4 linked regions of the Homo sapiens genome follow. The protein of the gene in region 1 purifies or fractionates together with the protein of each later gene. This does not show direct contact. Each region holds a gene or a part of one and is shown in the gene's direction. Other genes may lie near its edges.

The links. Proteins that work in one complex are often made in the same cells at the same time.
Region 2: the proteins of CSTF2 (region 1) and CSTF1 purify together in Homo sapiens (affinity purification with mass spectrometry; 2 studies listed by BioGRID, with this or other methods). This does not show direct contact.
Region 3: the proteins of CSTF2 (region 1) and CPSF2 purify together in Homo sapiens (affinity purification with western blotting; 3 studies listed by BioGRID and IntAct, with this or other methods). This does not show direct contact.
Region 4: the proteins of CSTF2 (region 1) and TUT1 purify together in Homo sapiens (co-immunoprecipitation; 2 studies listed by IntAct, with this or other methods). This does not show direct contact.

Annotation. Positions count from the first base shown.
Region 1 is NC_000023.11:100,826,891-100,830,390, forward strand, and holds part of CSTF2 (cleavage stimulation factor subunit 2), read left to right. Parts: intron 1-1,149; coding exon 1,150-1,212; intron 1,213-3,500. UniProt on the Homo sapiens protein: One of the multiple factors required for polyadenylation and 3'-end cleavage of mammalian pre-mRNAs. This subunit is directly involved in the binding to pre-mRNAs.
Region 2 is NC_000020.11:56,402,645-56,406,862, forward strand, and holds the end of CSTF1 (cleavage stimulation factor subunit 1), read left to right. Parts: intron 1-823; coding exon 824-1,083; 3' UTR 1,084-3,718; downstream 3,719-4,218. UniProt on the Homo sapiens protein: One of the multiple factors required for polyadenylation and 3'-end cleavage of mammalian pre-mRNAs. May be responsible for the interaction of CSTF with other factors to form a stable complex on the pre-mRNA.
Region 3 is NC_000014.9:92,166,969-92,169,806, forward strand, and holds part of CPSF2 (cleavage and polyadenylation specificity factor subunit 2), read left to right. Parts: 3' UTR 1-2,838. UniProt on the Homo sapiens protein: Component of the cleavage and polyadenylation specificity factor (CPSF) complex that play a key role in pre-mRNA 3'-end formation, recognizing the AAUAAA signal sequence and interacting with poly(A) polymerase and other factors to bring about cleavage and poly(A) addition.
Region 4 is NC_000011.10:62,585,024-62,588,523, reverse strand, and holds part of TUT1 (speckle targeted PIP5K1A-regulated poly(A) polymerase), read left to right. Parts: intron 1-3,500. UniProt on the Homo sapiens protein: Poly(A) polymerase that creates the 3'-poly(A) tail of specific pre-mRNAs. Localizes to nuclear speckles together with PIP5K1A and mediates polyadenylation of a select set of mRNAs, such as HMOX1.

The DNA of each region.
Region 1 (3,500 bases):
TGGAGGAAATAGTAGATTTCTTACGTTAAATCCTGTATGTCTAATTATAAGAACAGGGAAAGGGACAGTAAAGTGAAAGAGCATAGTAAAACTTCCAAGTTAACAAGGGGGAAAATGGAATGAGTGGAAACAAAATCAAGCCAGCAAAAATAGAGAAGAGGAAAAAAGTAAGAGACAGTGTAAAATAAGTAATAATAAATGTAGAGTAAGATGGAAGGAATAAAAACTAATGTAGTTGTTACTCTGCTAAATATGAATGAACTGTCAGATTAGGTTCAAAAGCTCATGAAGAAAACAGACAAAAAAATACAAGGTCACATTTGTTATAGCATATTAAACTGACATAAAATTGTATTTTAACAAACATAATCAGAACAAACAACAAAAGGGAAAAAGAGAAATTTAAAAGCTATGTACATTTATTGAAAATGTATAGATCGGCAATTAATAAGAGTATTGCTCATATACTTGTAACTGTTCCTTGTTCAACAATTGTAACTAAGAAGATTGAGTGAAATAATGATTCCCCATATGAAACATCTGTATGAACACATGATGTATTACCAATATTTAAAGTTTTTTTATGTAACAAACTTGGTTTTTGTTAATTTATCTAATCTAGGGTAGGTTGAGTACAACACTACTCATGGAGAATGATTTAATTCTAAATTGTTCTGTTCTGTAGAGAATCCAGTCTGCAGAGCTAAGTTGATGAGGAATGGAAGAAGAGATTTTTTGAAGAAATTTCTGCAAACTCAGGAATTTTTTGTATCTACTTTAGGATTGTTATGTATCTACTTTATCCTAATAGAGTTATACTTGTATTTAAATTATCTTTCATGACAGGAGGTCCATGGGTAAGTGACATTGTTTTCCTGTATTATAGAAGAGCTTCCTGCCAAGAGTTTGGTAACCAATGAAATGAATTATTCTTATTGAACTCACTATTCTGTCACTGAAACATAAAGTACAAATTGTAAATATACTAACAAACCCCATCTTCTCTCTCATTGCATTGTTGAATATCTTCCTTTGTAGGTTTCTGCTTGTGGAGCAGAATGAGGAAATTTGTAAACTCAGCCACTGTTCTAATTTTTCTTTTCCGCTGTTCTAATTGGTGTTTTTTCTTGTCTGCCCTTTATCTTCTAGGAGGAATGCAGGCTCAGGTTGGAATGCCAGGAAGTGGACCAGTGTCCATGGAACGGGGGCAAGGTAAATAAATATTAATGTCTGACTAATGTTAATTGGTCATGGAAGTGTTCCACATCCACAGTATCTAATATGGCAGCCACTAACCACCCATGGCTATTTCAATATTAAGTTAATTAAAATTAAGTAAAATTTAAAACTCAGTTCCTCAGTCACAATAGCCACATTCCAAGTGCTCAGTGGCCACAGGTGACTAGTGGATACCATACAGGACATTACAGATATAGAACATTTCTATCATCGTAAAAAGATCTATTGGACAGTGCTGGTCTAGACTTTCCACCTGGTGATTCAGAGTCCAGCTCTACAAGAATTGATAATGAAGCAAGTGGATCGTTTGTTTCCTGATTCCTAGTCTAATAATTCCACTGACATGTTCTCTCTCCCTGTATGGATATCTGTTGACTGAGTAAGGAATTTTAATAATGAGCATGTAAATATGTGGCTGGGTATGTAGAAGACTAGATTTAAACCCCAGAGAAAACTGGGAGGGAATCATAGGTCTGTAACGCCTACTTAATGAACATATGTTGTACCGTGGCTGTACTGCTATATACAACAGTAGCTGCTGCTCCAAAATCTCCATGTTGTTTCTTCATGTTACTGGAGTTTGAAGGACAAGAAAGTGCAGTGGTTCAGTTGGAAACAATGTTAGGAGGAGAGATCGTAAGAAAAGAGAAGGAACTGAGTGCATACTATATGCCAGGCACTTTAATTTTCATAAATAATCTTGTGAGTTAGGTGGCAGCACCTCAGTTTTACAGGCAAAGAGTTGGAAGCTCAGAATAAGTTACTTTCTCAAGGGGACAAGGTAAGTAAATATTAATGTATGAGTAATGTGGACTGGATTTGGTGCTCTTATTTTCTCTTCCAACTAGTAAGTGGCAGAGCTAAGATTCAGAAGTCTTTGACTCCAGAATCTGTCCTCTTTCTGTCACTCCACACTGCCTCTGTTAACTTCCAAGCATATTCTTCAGTGTCTTCTACTCTTATTCCTTGGGAATAAAATGATGGGAAAGACTGCTTTGGACAAGCATAGAGAAGCTTAAGGTTTTTTCTTTTGTAGCATATGGTTTATAAGTGGAACCCATTTAAAAAGCAAAATATTGGCCAGGCGCAGTGGCTCATGCCTGTAATCCCAGCACTTTGGGAGGCTGAGGTGGGTGGATTGCTTGAGCTCAGAGGTTTGAAACTAGCCTAGACAACATGGCAAAACCCCGTCTCTATAAAAAATACAAAAACTAGTTGGGCAATGGTGGTGTGCACTTGTGGTCCCAGCTACTTGGGAGGCCGAAGTGGAAGGATCACTTGAGCCCAACAGGTTGAGACTGCAGTGAGCCATAATCGGGCACCACTGCACTCCAGCCTGGGCAACAGAGCAAGACCCTGTCTCAAAGAATATATATATATACACACACACACACATATATATACACACATACATACATAAACATTAATATACAAGCCTGTGGTTTTTACACTGGGGTTGGTTGCTGAAGTGACAGAATTAACTTTTTCTTGTTAGAAGTCTGACAGCAGGACAAACTCCCTGGCCAAATATCTCATATTTTCTCTAAGCATCCAATGCTTTTGTGCTATTGTACATCCCTCTATCCCCACCGCACCACTGTCAATAGATCATATATGTTCCCCAGAGTATTTCTGCAGTAATGAGAAGGTATTAGGGTTTCAGTCATACTTCTGCCTGTCATGGGGCCAGCCCTCAATCCATCAGGTTTTAGCTGTTTAACGCATACTTGCACAAGACATCTTCCTATTATAGTTATCTTCACCTTTTTGTCAGAAATTGGCAAAGGGAAGTGACTCATGTTTTGAGGGTATTTCCAGGATGTCTTCATGCAGAGACTAAGTGAGATGAGCTTTCTTTTATAGTTTCCTTCAGTACCCAGCAGAGGAAGCAAGAGTCTTTTCGTGTGTGCCTAGTTTGTCTTACTTTTCCTGAAATCCATGCTGCTTTTAATGCTGAAAGGAGATGGAGATGTTTGAGAAGATACTTCTTGCTTCCCTGCCATGTTTGTTTAGTGTCGGTTCCCATGTCATCTCATTAGTCTTTGTTTGCTGTTGTCATGATGTTTATTATCAAAGACTTGCTGTGGCAGAGTATTTCTTGTGGAGTGATATTCTCTTTCATCATGTAAAGTTCATTCACTGCATTTCCCCATCTGATACATTTTTGACAGCAGAAATTTTTGTGCTTTAAAATGTGACAAAAATAGAATTGCCGTACTTCAGTTATGGCCGTTTCAGAATGAATCTTGCCTTCCAGATTC
Region 2 (4,218 bases), on another chromosome or scaffold:
TTGTTAAACAGGCCGGGCATGGTGGCTCACACCTGTAATCCCAGCACTTTGGGAGGCCGAAGCAGGTGGATCACAAGGTCAGGAGATAAAGACCATCCTGGCCAACCTGGTGAAACCCTGTCTTTACTAAAAATACAAAAATTGGCTGGGTGTGGTGGTGTCCACCTGTAGTCCCAGCTACTTGGGAGGCTGAGGCGGGAGAATCACTCGAACCCAGGAGGCGGAGGTTGCAGTGAGCCGAGATCACGCCACTGCACTCCAGCCTGGCGACAGAGTGAGACTCTGTCTAAAAAAAAAAAAAAAAGATCACACACAAAAGAATTGTTAAATAAGTAATGGGGCTTCTAAACATGAGGCACTTTGCATCTAGTAAAAAACATGGAAAAATGTACTCAGCATAAAGTTGGTTAAAACTATAATAGAAAAATATAGTGGCAACAATTTTATATGTATTTTTAAAATGTGTTTTTTTATGCCTCAAAGTACATTAGGACAGTAACAGTATTGCTTCAGGTGATCTGGTGATCTCCTTTTTTTTTTTCCTGATGCAGTCTTGCTCTTGCTCTGTTGCCTGTTGCCCAGACTGGTCTTGAACTCCTGGGCTCAAGCAGCCCTCCTTCCTCAGCCTCCCAAAGTACTGGGATTACAGACGTGAGCCACTGTGCCTGGTTTGATTTTCTTTTTTGTACTTTTTTAGAGTTTCTGAAAGTGTACAAGGTGTATCACTGCAACAGGTTTAAAATGCTTTTACATTGAATGCTAGAACGTTCTGAGGGTCTAAGATGTGGACTTAGAAAGCTATCCCTCTTGCTCTCTGTGGCAGGCGCGGGTTTAAGTGGACGCCAGGTGCACCGGACACAGGCTGTGTTTAACCACACCGAGGACTATGTGTTGCTGCCCGACGAGAGGACGATCAGTCTTTGCTGCTGGGACTCGAGGACAGCCGAGCGGAGAAACCTGCTGTCGTTGGGGCACAACAATATTGTACGCTGCATAGTGCACTCCCCCACCAACCCCGGGTTCATGACGTGCAGCGATGACTTCAGAGCGCGGTTTTGGTACCGGAGATCGACCACTGACTGAGCCACCCTCTCCGTAGGGTTCTTTCTCGAGGACTCTACCCTCCTCCCCCACGTCCTGTCTCAGCTGCAGTCGTAAGTCCGTGCACCATCCTTGACGTTTTGCTGCCACCTCTGTCCACATTCTTCTTGGATTTGTATAAAAGAATCTTTTTTTACCTTGATGTAGAATCATGGTGGAAAAAGTTGGAAACACAGATCTGTGCAGTTCTACATTCACTGATTATTACAGTGTGATTTTCATCGGTTTTGTAAGTACAGGACTTGCCGTTTCTTTTGATCTCTTGATTGAAGGAGGATAGGGCATTAAAGTGCTTTTGACATGAGGAATTTTCATTTGGTTCTTCTGTCAACTTTCTTGCTTATTCTGCTGAACCCTCTGTGTATTTCCCTTCCAGGTATATTTGAACAGATAAGCAGGCATGCAGCTCTGAGACTCCTGAGTTTTATGCCATTATCAAAAGCATTTTCAAGAATCCCTCAATTCTATCCTGAAATGATGTTATTCTGATAATAAAGCTCAGATCTGCAACTTTATTGTTATATATTTTTCACTTCTGTAAAATTAATGGCCAGTTTTTCCTGACAATTTATAGGAACAGTATCTTTCAACATACTCCCTACATTATCCTTCAATATCTGCAATACTTGTCTTTAGTAACTGTATTTCTGGTAAGATTATGATTTCATGAGAAACAATTGAAAATATATCCGATCTAATTAAATTAGGTCAGCCTGCTATTGCTCTCAGGTGTTGCCTGTCTTCACGAATGATTAGTATCGATTGACCTCTTTCTTAGGTGGTTTTAAGTCTTCAGTTCTCGTCAGCATGAACTAACTTCTCATCATGGAGGCACATAGTAACTGCATTCTCAGAAGATTTATGCAGTTAACCAATTGATACAAGTTTTCTTTTTCTTGAATTTTTTTTTTTTTAATTGAGGCACAGTCTTGCTCTGTCACCCAGGTTGGAGTGCAGTGGCGTGATCTCAGCTCACTGCAAGCTCCGCCTCCTGGTTTCACACCATTTTCCTGCCTCAGCCTCCCAAGTAGCTGGGACTACAGGCACCCACCACCACGCCCGGCTAATTTTTTTTTTTTTTTTTTTTTTTTTTGTATTTTTAGTAGAGCCAGGGTTTCACCATGTTAGCCAGGATGGTCTCTATCTCCTGACCTCGTGATCCGCCTGCCTCAGCCTCCCAAAGTTTTGGGATTACAGGCGTGAGCCACCGCGCCCAGCCTTCCTGAAGCTTTTTAGAACATGACAGTACTTCTCTGGATTCAGCACTAGCAGAGTCAGAGAACTCTGAACTCCCCTTGTACAAACATAAACTTTGCTTTATATTTATCCCAAAAAACAAATACCTTATGATCTGCATAGGAGTACCTAGAAATATAATCTGGGATCATTTGATAAAAATAGTAAATAGATTGAAGTAAAAGTCATTGCTTTATATTATAGGAAGTTTTGTTTTGTTTTGTTTTGTTTGTTTTGTTTTTGAGACGGAGTTTCGCTCTTGTCCCCCAGGCTTTAGTGCAATGGCGCGATCTCGGCTCACCGCAGCCTCCGCCACCTGGGTTCAAACGATTCTCCTGCCTCAGGCTCCCGAGTAACTAGGATTACAGGCGTGCGCCACCATGCCCGGCTAATTTTGTATTTTTTTTAGTAGAGACGGGGTTTCTCCATGTTGGTCAGGCTGGTCTCGAACTCCCAACCTCAGGTAATCCGCCCGCCTCAGCCTCCCAAAGTGCTAGGATTACAGGCGTGAGCCACCACGCGCGGCCCCATCATACGAAGTTACTGAAGTTATTGCGTAAACATTCTGTTTTAGTCATCCTTGAGGATCGTTTTAACTCCTTGATCTGTAAAACTGTCTTAAGCATCTTAACATGTTACATCACAGGGTTTTAGCTCAGATTTCCAAAGAGCCATATTTTTTGATGCATATTTCCAGTTGAATTCCAGTGTGAATTTCCAGTTGTACTTTGCATTCTGATTCTTTGATATTTGAACTTGGCCATCTGTGGGTGCTACTCTCGTAAGACTAAAAGGCACCTACTAAATACGAACAAGGATAACCAGTTCTACCAAAAACATTACCAACCAAACCTCCCCTGTTCTTTTTTCAGACTTTCCTTTTGCTTTCAACCTCTTAAACTGTAAAGGAGAGATTTAATGTTTCCCTATTATTCTGCTTTGACTCACATACTAAAATGACCACATGGCACTCCATTGAATCTTTTCAGTTGTTCACGAATTAAAATAATGCCCATGTTTTACAGTTTTTCGAGTAGTCTCAGCAATGGATCTGTAGTTTCAGGACCTGTTTTTAAAAGATCAAGATACTTTTATGTGTTTCAGAAGTAGCTGTTTTTTCATTTTTTGTGGGTTTGTTTTTTTTGTGTTTGTTTGGTTGGTTGGTTTTTGGTTTTTTTGCTTTTTAAAGGTCACAGTGTTGTGAGCCTGGTGTAAATGCCAGGAATATTATATGGACTTAGTATCTGCATCTCGTTAATTGTACCACACAACACTCTGCCATTCAAATAATGAATATCTGGTCAGGATACGAACTTATACCCTCTGTGTGTTTTTTTTTTTTAAGATACGTGATTTCTGAAATAAACTTTATATACAATGATAAGCTAGTTTATTTTTTTTGGAACTTACTTTGAACATTTCCCACATTTGAACATCTGTTCTCAAACAGCAGTTATGACTTTGGTACTGTTCACCCTTTCTTTAGTGCTTTGTTCCAGAAGTCAGGTTTTTATAGCTGGATCACCTTTAGCTCTTTATCTTTGCTCCTCTGCTCTCTATGAATTTTTCTTTTTTTGAAACGAATTCTCACCCTGCCGCCCAGGCTGGAGTGCAATGGCGCGATCTCGGTTCACCGCAACCTCCGCCTCCCAGGTTCAAGCGATTCTCCTGCCTTAGCCCCCTGAGTAGCTGAGATTACAGGCGCGTGCCACCATGCCTGGCTAATTTTTTCTATCTTTAGGAGAGACAGGGTTTCGCCATGTTGGCCAGGCTGGTCTTGAACTCCTGACCTTCTGATCTGCCCACCTTGGCCTCCCAAAGTGCTGGGATTACAGACGTGAGCCACCGTGCCCGGCCGCTCTCTGTGAAGTTAAAGAACTT
Region 3 (2,838 bases), on another chromosome or scaffold:
CATTTTCATGTGAGTTTAGATTCTGCTTATCGATTTCTTTTTTTTCTTTTTTTTTTTTTTTGAGATAGCATCTTGCTTTGTCACCCAGGCTGGAGTGCTATGGCTCAATCTCAGCTCACTGCAACCTCCGCCTCCTGGGTTCGAGAGATTCTCCTGCCTCAGCCTCCAGAGTAGTTAGGACTACAGGCGCGTGCCACCATGCCAGGCTAATTTTTGTATTTTTAATAGAGATGAGGTTTCATCATGCTGACCAGGCTGGTCTCGAACTCCTGACATCAAGTAACCCGGCTGCCTCAGCCTCCCAAAGTGCTGGGATTACAGTCGTGAGCCACCATACTCAGCCTAAGATTCAGCTTACCAATTTCTGCAAAAAAGCCCACTCATTTTTAATAGGAGGTAAAAAGCAGTTGACATTTATAACTTAGAGTCTTTTAATGTTAGTGCTGAAAGGGACTAGAGAGCTCATCTAATTCAACCCACTTATTTTAGTATTGAATGAATGACCCTGTACAAGGAAAGGGATTTGCTTGAGATCCACACAGCTGTTTAAAGGCAGAGTTGGGATTGGAACCAAGTCTTAGAGAATCCATTGTTGCTTCTACACTGCATTATTGCTTTGGTTCCCTAGTGTACATTCACTTTGCTTAGGAGTGATATGTTCAGTTTATCTTCTCTAAGAATGGCAGCTGTTATTTAGGACAGTGGCATGCTGAGAAATAGATTGATTTCTATTCTATACTGTGTCCAGTAAAGGTCGGGGGAGAAAGAGTAAATCTTATCTTCTTCTGTACTTTTCTTTGATTAATGTAAGAGTCTAGAGTTTTATCAGAAGATTATTGTCCTTTAAAATATTGATGGACTGATTATCACTTAAAGGGTATAAACAGTGGGTAGTAATTCAGTGATTGAGAGGTTAATTGCAGGTTTTTTTTTTTTTTTTTTCTGGTAACCATAGAATGAATGTAGAATGAATTTGGATTCAATAATGGGAACTAAGGTCAGGCGTGGTGGCTCACACCTGTAATCCCAGCACTTTGGGAGGCCGAGGCGGGTGGATCATCTGAGGTCAGGAGTTCCAGACCAGCCTGGCCAACATGGTGAAACCTCATCTCTACTAAAATTACGAAAAATTAGTCAGGTGTGGTGACGGGTGCCTATAATCCCAGCTACTTGGGAGGCTGAGGCAGTAGAATCGCTTGAACCCGGGATGCGGAAGTTGCAGTGAGCCAAGATCACGCCACTGTACTCCATCTTGGGCGACAGAGCGCAACTCTGTCTCCAAAAAAAAAAAAAAAAAAGGGCAGGGGGAGCGGCTAGAGAAGGAACATTCAAATCTTCCCACGTGGGCAAGTTCCAAGCAAATGTTTATTTTTTTACCTCCTCTTTGGTTTTTGTCTCACTTGAAGCACTTTGTGTTTATGGGAAAATACCAAAAATTACCAAAATTTAAAAACCCAGGGCTTTGCTGGAAGTGAGGGTATCTTCTTGGCTTTTCCCTTTTCCTCCCCACCACTATACGCACATGCACACACAGCTCTATTTTTTGGTGCTTTTCGTTCATTATTCACTCCATTTCATTTTAGCTCTTGAAGTCAAAATGGGATTCCAAAGAGCAAAATAGAAGTTTGGAGAGTTTGAAATCTCTCCTCGTGGCTGGACGCCGTGGCTCACACCTGTGATCCCAGCACTTTGGGAGGCCAAGGCAGGCATACTGCTTGAACTCAGGAGTTCAAGACCAGCCTGGGGAACATGGTAAAACCCTGTCTCTACAAAAAATAGAAAAATTAGCTGGGCATGGTGGCTGTAGTCCCAGCTATTTGGGAGGCTGAGGTGGGAGGATCACTTGAGCCTGGGGAGGTTGAGACTGCACTGAGTCTTGAATGAATGAATCCATCTCTCTTTCTCTCTCCATATAGTCAAAGAGAACCAAAAATGTATGTGCTTTTTTTGTGAAATTGTTAAGGATTCCATGATCCTACTAAAATTTTTGATAATGATAATTTCAAGTGGAGAATATATAAAGGACTCGTGAGGCCTTCCTACCTCATTTTCTGAGGTTATGTTGACTTTAATATCCAATGTATCATAGGTGTTTTCTTTTTTCTCTGACAATTGTTATGTTAAAAACAAAAAGAAGCACATACTGTACAGTCAAAACTATCAGACGTAACTCTGTGGGAAACTTTATTCCAAGGGTGCTGCCACTGCCCTTGTTTTAAATATTTTTGGAACTTCATTTCTCTTCAGGTCTATTTAATAAGCTTGTTAGGAATATTGTAAATTATTTTAGAAACACATTGTGGTCTCAGCCTCATGTGGCATTGCCACTTGTTACTACATGACCCCCCCACACCCCCTAAAAAAGAAAAAGGACTTTAAAAACCCTCTCAGGACAAACATTTGCTACCGTGGTTGATTTTTTAATTTTACATTAACTATTTAATATCAGACTATAACTAAAATACAAGTAGTGGAATTATACTTTTATAAAGTATCAAATTATGTAGATGATGACGAAGTTATAAGGTTACTATAATTTCCAACTTCACCCATAGGTCATGGTATAGTTGAAATTTCATATTTAAATATCAAAACATAAATGTCTAAAGAGATTGTGTAAATTCTTTATCAGTTATAAGGAAAAACCAAATTCAAATTCTTAAGGTTTTTCTTATATGTGATTTTTTTTTTTTTTTTTTTTTTGAGACAAACTTGCAGGGAGAGAATTATGTGGCATGAGGAGGATTGAGAATGTTGTTCATTTTATCTAATTACTGCCTATTAAGAAAAGCTTCACATTTATTTCAGCTATTCTATTGAATACTTTTACCTAAGATA
Region 4 (3,500 bases), on another chromosome or scaffold:
TGAGTGCAGTGGCACAATCTCAGCTCACTGTGACGTCTACCTCCTGGGTTCCAGCAATTCTCACACCTTAGCCACCCAAGCAACTGAGATTACAGGCGCGTGCCCCCATGCCCAGCTAATTTTTGTATTTTTAGTAGAGACAGGGTTTCACCATGTTGGCCAGGCTGGTCTCGAACTCCTGACCTCAGGTGATCCGTGCACCTCAACCTCCCCAAATGCTGGGATTACGGGCGTGAGCCACTGCTCCCAGTCCCACCCTTTGGATTTTATCACTTCACCAGAGTTAGTCACTGGGGGATTTTTTTGTGTGTGTCATCTATTGATTCAGTGAATTCTTTGCCAAATATTTATTCACAGCTAACTTTGTACTAGGCACTATGCTTAGGGCTGCATTCTGAGTAGTGAATGGGGTAGATATGGTCCCTGCTCTCACAGAGCCTATAGTCTAGAGGAGAAAGTAAACAATTAAGTAATTATAGTGAAAGTTGGTGCTTAAAGAACAACATACCATTGGATCAACTCCACAAGAACCTGGTTGATAAACCAGTTAGCAGTTTATTAACTTACACTGAGGGTACTAAGGTTGTTTGGTTAGAACACCCTGTCCTTTGGAGAGTGTTAGATAAACAAGCTTGTGCTTTTTGTGTTGCTTCCCTGTAGGTTTTGGTCCCTTGAAAAAAGTTCACTGTTGAGGTGCTGTGTTCCTTGGTCATACTGTGGTTCTGAGGCTGTACTCTTGTTATGTAGGCATGGCTTAGGTGATCCAAAATATCCCTTTGCAGCCCAGGTTATCTTTTAGAATGGGGTGGAGCCTGTGTTTGTTAGGGATTGCATTCAGCAACCAAACTACAAATGGCTTAAACAATAGGAATTTAGTTTTTCTCATGTAACAAGAAGTCCAGACCTGGACAGTTCAGGGCTTTGCTGTTTTCCTGCTCTGCCATTATTGGTATGTGGCTCTTCATAGTTACGATACTGCTGCCCCATATCTTCAGAAAAGAAGAAGGGGCAGCTTGTAGGGCAGAGTATAAAAGGTTAGTGTCGGCCAGGTCCAGTGGCTCACGCCTGTAATCCCAGCACTTTGGTAGGCTGGGGCGGGTGGATCATGTGAGGTCGGGAGTTCGAGATCAGCCTGACCAACATGGAGAAACCCCGTCTCTACTAAAAATACAAAATTAGCGGGGCGTGGTGGCACATGCCTGTAATCCCAGCTACTCGGGAGGCTGAGGCAGGAGAATCGCTTGAACCCGGGAGGCGGAGGCTGCCTTGAGCCGACATCGCGCCATTGCATTCCAGCCTGGGCAACAAGAGCGAAACTCCATCTCATAAAAAAAGGTTAGTGTCAGCTGAGTTTGAGTCCCCTCCTCTATTTTTTTTCCTTTTATTCTGAGAAAAATGCCTTTTCTTTTTCCTTTTTTTTTTTTTTTTTTTGAGAGGGAGTTTTTTTGTGGTAGAATTCTGGCCACTGAGATATAAGTAGAAGTTTACTGAGGAGGCCTTTAGAAAAAGTATTTCTCTCGACTGGGCACAGTGGCTTACGCCTGTAATCCCAGCACTTTGGGAGACTGAGGTGGGAGGATCACCTAAGGTCAGGAGTTCGAGACCAGCCTGGCCAACATGGCGAAACCCCATCTCTACTAAAAATACAAAAATTAGCTGGGTGTGGTGGCAGGCGCCTGTAATCCCAGCAAGCAATTCTCCCGCCTCAGCCTCCCGAGTAGCTGGGACTGCAGGCGCGTGCCACCACACCCGGCTAATTTTTGTATTTTTAGTAGAGACCAGGTTTCACCATGTTCGCCAGGCTGGTCTCGAACTTCTGACCTCAGGTGATCCGCCTACCTCGGCCTCTCAAAGTGCTGGGATTACAGGTGTGAACTACTGTGCCTGGCCTAATTTTTTGTATTTTTAGTAGAGACAGGATTTCTCCATGTTGGCCATGCTGGTCTTGAACTCCTGGCCTCAAGTGATCTGCCCACCTCAGCCACGCAAACTGCTGGGATTACAGGCGTAAGCCACTGTGCTCCGCCTAATGATTAACATTTTTATTGAGGAACTACTATGCATCAATTGTGTGCTAAGCACATTATGTACACTTGCATCTAATCTCCACAACATTCTCTTAAGGGAAATGGTCAGTAGGCAGTTGGAGATTTGGGAGTTTAAGACACTGCTTGTGAGGCAGTTACAAGTTACTTAACCTCTTTGAGTTTCAGTTTCTTAATTTGTAAAATGGAAATAATAATACATACTTCGTAGGTGTCTTATGAGCCTCAGACATCGTTTGTGTGAACTGCTTAGTTTATAATAAGCCCTCAACAAATAGTAACTCTAGCTATGGATGGTGGTGTTGAGAGGACAAAAATGGCAAGGACACAGGCTCCTTATTTTTATTTATTTATTTATTTGAGATGGAGTTTTGCCCTTGTTGCCCAGGCTGGAATGCAGTGGCGCGAACTTGGCTTGGGGCGATCTCAGCTCACCGCAAACTCTGGCTCCCGGGTTCAAGTGATTCTCCTGCCTCAGCCTCCCGAGTAGCTGGGATTACAGGCATGCGCCACCGCGCCTGGCTAATTTTGTATTTTTAGTAGAGATGGGGTTTCTCCATGTTGCTGGTCTGGAATTCCCGACCTCAGGTGATCCGCCTGCCTCGGCCTCCCAAAGTGCTGGGATTACAGGCTGGGATTACAGGCGTGCGCCACCGTGCCAGGCCTGTTTATTTATTTTTGAGGTGGAGTCTCATTCTGTCTCCCAGGCTGGAGTGCAGTGGCACGATCTTGGCTCACTGCAACCTCTGCCTCCTGAGTAGCTGGGTTTACAGGCGCCTGCCACCATGCCCGGCTAATTTTTGTATTTTTAGTAGAGACGGGTTTCACCATGTTGGCCAGGCTGGTCTGGAACTCCTGGCGTCACATGATCTGTCCGCCTCAGCCTCCCAGGGTGCTGGGATTACATGCATGAGCTACCACGCCCAGCTGACACAGTCTTCTGAATCTGCCAGTCCTGCCCTCCCTGATGCCTTCTGTGAGGTTTTGGAGAAAAATAGGAGCACAGACAGGCCCAGTGAAAGAGACTCTTAATTTCCATCTGGGGCTTTGGTTACAAACTTGGTGGTGTACTGCAGTCTGGTAAACTGTGGTTTATTAGAGTCAGAAGACTGGCCTGGGCAGGTCCAAGTAGCTACCTTTGTCCTTGGCCTCACTTCAGTTCTTTGCTGTGTTTGGCATAGGGGTAGAAGTAAGTCTGCGCATGGTGATGTGCCCCTATCATCCCAGCTACTGAGGAGGCTGAGGCGGGAGGTTCGCTTGAGCCCAGGAATTCAAAGCTACAGTGAGCTATAATCACATCACTGCACTCCAGTCTTGGTGACAGAGCAAAATCCTGTCTTTAAAAAAAGAAGGGTGTGGCCGGGCCAGGTGGCTCACACCTGTAATCCCAGCACTTTGGGAGGCTGAGGTGGTTAGATCACCTGAGGTCAGGAGTTTGAGACCAGCCTGGCCAAC